Homo sapiens: one gene and its partner. Each later gene encodes a partner of the first gene's protein in a complex. Each region holds a gene or a part of one and is shown on either strand. Other genes may lie near its edges. The genes, in order: TUBG2 and TUBGCP6.

Evidence for each region.
Region 2: TUBG2 (region 1) and TUBGCP6 share a complex: the UniProt entries of both Homo sapiens proteins name them as parts of the gamma-tubulin ring complex.

What each region holds. Positions count from the first base shown.
Region 1 is NC_000017.11:42,664,660-42,667,585, reverse strand, and holds the end of TUBG2 (tubulin gamma-2 chain), read right to left. Parts: intron 2,111-2,926; coding exon 2,024-2,110; intron 1,909-2,023; coding exon 1,759-1,908; intron 1,500-1,758; coding exon 1,347-1,499; intron 1,264-1,346; coding exon 1,102-1,263; intron 984-1,101; coding exon 786-983; 3' UTR 580-785; downstream 1-579. UniProt on the Homo sapiens protein: Tubulin is the major constituent of microtubules, protein filaments consisting of alpha- and beta-tubulin heterodimers. Gamma-tubulin is a key component of the gamma-tubulin ring complex (gTuRC) which mediates microtubule nucleation.
Region 2 is NC_000022.11:50,234,923-50,238,736, forward strand, and holds part of TUBGCP6 (gamma-tubulin complex component 6), read right to left. Parts: intron 1-3,814. UniProt on the Homo sapiens protein: Component of the gamma-tubulin ring complex (gTuRC) which mediates microtubule nucleation.

The DNA of each region.
Region 1 (2,926 bases):
TTTCTTACTCGTTGTCCACCTCTGGGCCCATCATTGGTGTGCCTAATGCTTTGGGCCTAGAATGGAGAGAAGCTTGGGGCAGATAACAAACCCACGAATTTCTCTGGCACAGAAAAGTAACTCAGGATGTGCTCAGCCCTACTCTTGAATTCTGTTTCTACTTATCAGGTTGGGTTGAACTGGATTGAGTTCCTGGAACTCTCATGGCCCTGGGCACTGGGAATCTGGAACCTTGGCTCTCCTGGCCTGCTCAGAATGTAGTGTGCCCTCCTTCAGTAGACCCCACCTCCTCTGCCCTGAGTGGAAGAGGTTGGGGCAACATTGACCCTCACTGGGGCAAAGCTTAGGCGCTGAGGAGACAGCAAACCTCAGTAAAGCTCTGTAATCTTGAGACAAGGGCTGACTCTAGTAATACTAAACAGCCTAGTTCAAGGTGAGGGATGCCAATGGAAACAGTGAACACACTAAGATTTGGACTAAGTGATAAGACGTTGGAGGAGGTGAAGGCCACCCTACTGTCAGATGCCTAGAAACTGGACCCCTTCACCACCCCCCCGTATTCACAGATCAAGCCCTGGCTATACTGACAACCAAGCTTTATTACTTTATTAGAGCTGAACAAGCATATTAAAAGTTAGGGCATGGAAGGGAGGAAGCAGGACCAGCTCACGGGCTGGAGATGAACCAAGAAGGGTTGTCCATGAGGTGAAGCTGGGTCAGAGGGAGCAGGCATGGTCGAGGCTGTGGTTACCATCTAGAAGGAGAAGGAGTAGTGGGGAGGGAAATCACTGCTCCTGGGTGCCCCAGGAAATGTAGTCTGGCTGGGTGGCCGCATGGTACTCATCAATGAGCTCCTGAACAACCTCCCTAGACCTGTCCATCTCATCAAAGTTGTCCTTGAACATGTCCTCCTTACGGAACTGCTCGAGGAAGGCATCCCGCTTCCGCAGCTTGTCAAACTGCTGGCAGGAACTTTCAAAGAGCTGAAAGAGATGAAAATCTCCAAAATGCGAGCCAGGGGGTTAGGAGTGAACTTGGGGAAGATGATGAAGGTGGCCAGTGGAACAGACTCTTCTAAGAAGAATAGAAACCTAGACTCACCGAGGAGATGCTGGTGTGGTTGGCCATCATGAGCCCGCTGACCCGGTGGGCCGAGGGCAGGTAGGGAGACTTCCTCGACAGGGCCACCTGGATGCTGGCGGGGCCCCACGGGATGAAGTTGGCCAACTTCCGTTCCCGGATCCTCTGCAGGCTCTTGTGGACCTGGGGTGGGCATAGGAGCAGTGGAGGTGGCCTCTCCTCTACCCCTGCAGGTCCAGGGCGCGGGATGAAGGGGCCTCCCCTACCTGGGTGGGGTCCACCTCTCCCTGGATGATGTTGAGGATGGCGATGTAGCAGTGGTTGGTCTGGCGGTCTCGGCCTGTGGACACCATCACGTTCTTGGGCTGCAGCAGCCGCCTCATGACATCCAGGACCGTGGTCTTCCTCACGCTGGCCACCTGATGGGACAGTGAGACAGGGACCCGGCCAGCGCTCAGGGCACAGTCCCTTTGGCTTCTCTTTGGCAGAAGCCAAAGGCAGAGGGAGGGTGGAGAGAAAGTCAGCAAGAAAGTCGCCCGCTCTGTGCCAGTCCCTGAGCGCAGTGCCTTGGGGCCTGCAAAGGGCAGCTCCTGGGGCAGTGGGGAAGAGAGAAAGGCTGGGGCAGGGCCTGCTGGGCCCAGGGCCAGCCTGGCCTGGGACACTGAAGGCTGCTCTTACTGACTGGTCTGTAGTGAGCGGGGTGTAGCCGGTCATGAGGAAGTGGAGCCGTGGGGTGGGAATGAGCGAGGCGATGAGGCCGATGAGGTCATTGTTCATGTAGCCGGGGTAGCGCAGGGTGGTGGTGCTGGCCGACATGATGGTGGACACCTGGGGACAGGCGTGCCATGTCATGGGGCTCGGCCTGGGTGGGACCTTCCTTCCCCAGATGACCCTCCAGCAAGGAGGGCTTCCAGTCCAAAGGAGTCCGGGAGTGGGGGCCCACCAGCTGGTTGATCTGGGAGAAGGACGGGTTCTGGATGTGCAGGCGGTCTGTGGCAATCCGGTTCAGGGCTGTGTTGTCCAGCACCACCTGGGGGGACAGAAGAGCATCACAGCATCTTGAGGATAAAATGGGCATAGAAATAAGATATTGGCTTAGCCCCTGCTGAACTCCAAAGCCAGGAAGTAGGTTTGTTAGTTTAAAAAAAAAAAGTACTGAGGCCGGGCGCGGTGGCTCATGTCTGTAATCCCAGCACTTTGGGAGGCCGAGACGGGCGGATCACAAGGTCAGGAGATCGAGACCATCTTGGCTAACACGGTGAAACCCCGTCTCTACTAAAAATACAAAAAATTAGCCAGGCATGTTGGCGGGCGCCTGTAGTCCCAGCTAATTCGGAGGCTGAGGCAGGAGAATGGCATGAACCCGGGAGGCGGAGTTTGCAGTTAGCCAAGATCATGCCACTGCACTCCAGCCTGGGGGACAGAGCAAGACTCCGTCTCAAAAATAAAATAAAATAATAAAATAAAATAAATAAAATAAAATAAAAGTACTGCTGGGCATGGTGGCTCAGGCCTGTAATCCCAAGGCCAAGGTGGGAGGACCACTCGAGGCCAGGAGTTGGACACCAGCCTGAGCAACACAGCAAGATGCCATCTCTGTAAAAAATATAAATAAAAAAGTATAAATATATATAATATATATATATATATATAAATATAAATAAAAAATAAAAAGAAAGAAAAGTACTGTTTCTGGGGCACCATGAGATACTCTCGGACTACGCAGGGCAGTAAACAAACACGTGAGTACCCACATGTGCCATACACTGTGCCTGGCTCTGGGAAGACCACAGAGAGGAACAGGCACCGTCTTTCCCTTCATTAGGCCTATAGTCTCGTGGAGGGA
Region 2 (3,814 bases), on another chromosome or scaffold:
CAGGTCCACGGCAGCATCGCCCACACTCCCGTCCATGGCAGCATCCACACCCAGGTCCACCGCAGCATCATCCACACCCCTATCCACGGCAGCATCCACCCCCTGTCCACGGCAGCATCAGCCACACCCCTGTCCACAGCAGTATCCACACCCCTGTCCATGGGAACATCATCCACAACCCTATCCACTGCAGCATCATCCACACCCGTGTCCATGGCAGCATCCACACCCCAGTCCATGGCAGCATCTACACCCCTATTCACGGCAGCATCATCCACATCCCTGTCCACGGCAGCATCATCCACACTCCTGTCCATGGCAGCATCCACATCCCTGTCCACGGCAACATCCACATGCCTATCCACATGCCTGTCCACGGCAACATCCACATGCCTGTCCACAGCAGCATCCACACCCCCGTCCACGGCAACAACATCCACAACAGCCAGGGGGAGAGGAGCCTGAGCCCCCAACAGAGGAGGATAAACACAGACCGTCCGTGCAGACCCCTGCCCATCATTCAGCCTTAAAAAGGAAGGCAGCTCAGACACGTGCTCCAGAAGGCACGGCACTCAAGGACGCCGTGTGGAGTGCAATGAGCCATCACAAAACACTGTCTCCACAGGGACGGCGCTCGAGGACGCCAAGTGGAGTAAAATGAGCCATCACAAAACACTGTGCAACTCCACTTACATGAGGTCCCTACAGTGGCCAAAATCCTAGAGACAGAAAGTGGAGGCCAGGTGCGGTGGCTCATGCCTATAATCCCAACACTTTGGGAGGCCAAGAAAGGCAGATCACGAGGTCAGGAGTTCAAGACCAGCCTGGCCAACATGGTGAAACCCTGACTCTACTAAAAACACAAAAATTAGCTGGGCGTGGTGGCGGGCATCTGTAATCCCAGCTGCTCAGGAGGCTAAGGCAGGAGAATGGCTTGAACCCGGGAGGTGGAGGTTGCAGTGAGCCAAGATCGTGCCACTGCACTCCAGCTTGAGCAACAGAGCAAGACTCCATCTCGGAAAAAAAAAAAAAAAAAGTGGAGTGAATGGGGAGCTGTTTAATGGGTTCAGAGTTTCCTGCAGACTTGCTGTGCAGCAGTGAAAATACACACAGCATTACAAAGCTGTACAACTGGTTAAGACGGTAAAAACATTATATAAATTTTACTGCCCCACCTCAGAAAAACCGTAAGAGATGGATACAGAAAAAAAAATTCACAATTTTTTTTTTTGAGACGGAGTCTCGCTCTGTCACCCAGGCTGGAGTGCAGTGGCACGATCTTGGCCCATTGCAACCTCTGCCTGCTGGGTTCACACCATTCTCCTGCCTCAGCCTCCCGAGTAGCTGGGACTACAGGCACGGGCCACCATGCCTGGCTAATTTTTTGTATTTTTAGCAGAGATGGGGTTTCACCGTGTTAGCCAGGATGGTCTCGATCTCTTGACCTCGTGATCCGCCCACCTCAGCCTCCCAAAGTGCTGGGATTACAGGCGTGAGCCACTGCACCTGGCTAAGTTCACAAATTTTTAAGACAGTAACAGGTAAGGTGGGCTGGTACAGGCAGCCCTGGGCACATGCAACTCTGAGGAAATTTGCCTTCTGCTGGTGCTGAGGCTGTGAAACCACATGTACTGGCACTACACACACTCACACCCCCGTCCTCCCTGCGAAAACAATCAGCTCCAAGAAACACACTTTTACTGGCCACCTCTGCTATGAAGAGGGTGGGCTGGAGGGGGCAGGAGGAAGGAGACCAGCCCTGAGATGTCCAGTCAGCAGGTGGGGCCGCTCTGGACCCCAGACGCCTGCCCAGGCTCCCTCAGGATGAGATGAGCATGAGAAAGACACAGCCTCTCAGAGCCTCTGTCTGCCCCCTGCATTTCTTCCTGCAGATGGCCTCGGCAGGGGTGCAGGCTGTGGGCACAACCCTGTTTCCCCCTGCAGCCACTTCCACCCCATCTCCTCCAGGACTGGCCCCCAGCACTGCCATGGCTGCACACCCCTCTTGGTGACTCAGAACTGAGGGAAAAAAAGCCCACAGCGGAAACACAAAGACACAGCGCAGGATCCTGCAGGCTCTGGAGTGAACACCCCCCGCCCCAACAGGTCCCCAGAGAGAACACAACCCAAAATGTAGCAAAATGCTTCCCCCAGATGGGTGGCACATGCAGAGAAAGAGACCATTCCAGGGTCTGAAAGGCCTCCCTCCGCCTTAACCCAGCCCTTGCAGCTCAGCAGCAGGGAGGGCCGTGAGCAGTCGGACAATGGTGGTTCTCAGGGTGGGCAACAGCAGGGGCGAGTGGCCCCCCGTGGGGTCTTGGGACCTGTGGGAAAGCAGGGTTGATGTCTTGGAGAGTGGAGAAGGCTCAATTTCTGGCTAGGCGGCAGTTTCTTTAGCCACCTGCTGGTCAGAGCTCATCACAGCAGGAAACTAGCAGGTGGCTGGGATTTAAAATGAAACAAGACCAAACGATTTGCCAAAGGAACTTGAACCACAGCATCAGGCTGACCCGACTGCAGTGTCAGGGGCCGTGGGATCAGGGAGTAGAGGGGCCCAGGAGACGTAAACTCAGGTCCAGCCACTGTGTGGCCCTGTGCAGGTCAGCCACTGGACACTGAGATGACCACAGCACTTTCACTCTGCAGGGCCCTGGGCAGAGAAAGTCCCTACAGGAGCTGCCCAGGCTGTGCTCAGCACACTGCCAGGCACACAGCAGCACCTCCCTATAGGAACCACCGCCAGGCCCCACCGTGCCGGAGCTCCGCAGCCTAGGAACCACCGCCGGGCCCCACCGTGCGGGAGCTCCGCAGTCTCCAGCGTATTCAGAACAGGGTGATGAGGAGAGTGAGTGACCATGTCTCCTCATCAGCAACCCGAAAAAATGAACCTAGAAAAGGGGGAGTTAATAAATGAAATACAGCCAGCACGGTGGCTCATGCCTGTAATCCCAGCACTTTGGGAGGCCGAGGCGGGTGGATCACCTGACGGTGGGAGTTCAAGACCAGCCTGACCAACATGGAGAAACACCATCTCTACTAAAAACACAAAATTAGCCAGGCGTGGTGTCCCATGCCTGTAATCCCACTGTAATCCCAGCTACTTGGGAAGCTGAGGCAGGAGAATCGCTTGAACCCAGGAGGCAGAGGTTGCAGTGAGCCAAGATTGCGCCATTGCACTCCAGCCTGGGCAACAAGGACAAAGAAAGAAAAAGAAAAGAGAGAGAGAGAGAGAGAGACAGACAGACAGACTTATGAGGGAGAGTTTGGGGGACCTAGTTTGTTTAGGATGAAAGGAGTTGCCTAATTATGGTGAGCTGAAGAATGTTCCAGGTGAAGGGAACCTGGTGTTGGAAGGTTCTGAGTTTTTACAAAAATTAGCTGGGCATGGTGGCAGGTGCCTGTAATCCCAGCTACTCAGGAGGCTGAGACAGGGAGAATTACTTGAACCCGGGAGGCGGAGGTTGCAGTGAGCTGGAGATGGTGCCACTGCACTCCAGCCTGGGCAACAGAACAAGACTCCGCCTCAATAAATAAATAAATACAAAAAAAAAACAGAAAAAAATACTATTAGCAGACATGTACAGAATAAAGCAATAACTTGTAGGGCCAGTTTTTTTTTTTGTTTTTTTTTTTGAGACGGAGTCTCGCTCTGTCACCCAGGCTGGAGTGCAGTGGCGCAATATCCGCTCACTGCAAACTCCGCCTCCCGGGTTCACGCCATTCTCCTGCCTCAGCCTCCCCAGTAGCTGGGACCACAGGCACCCGCCACCACGCCTGGCTAATTTTTTGTATTTTTAGTAGAGACGGGGTTTCA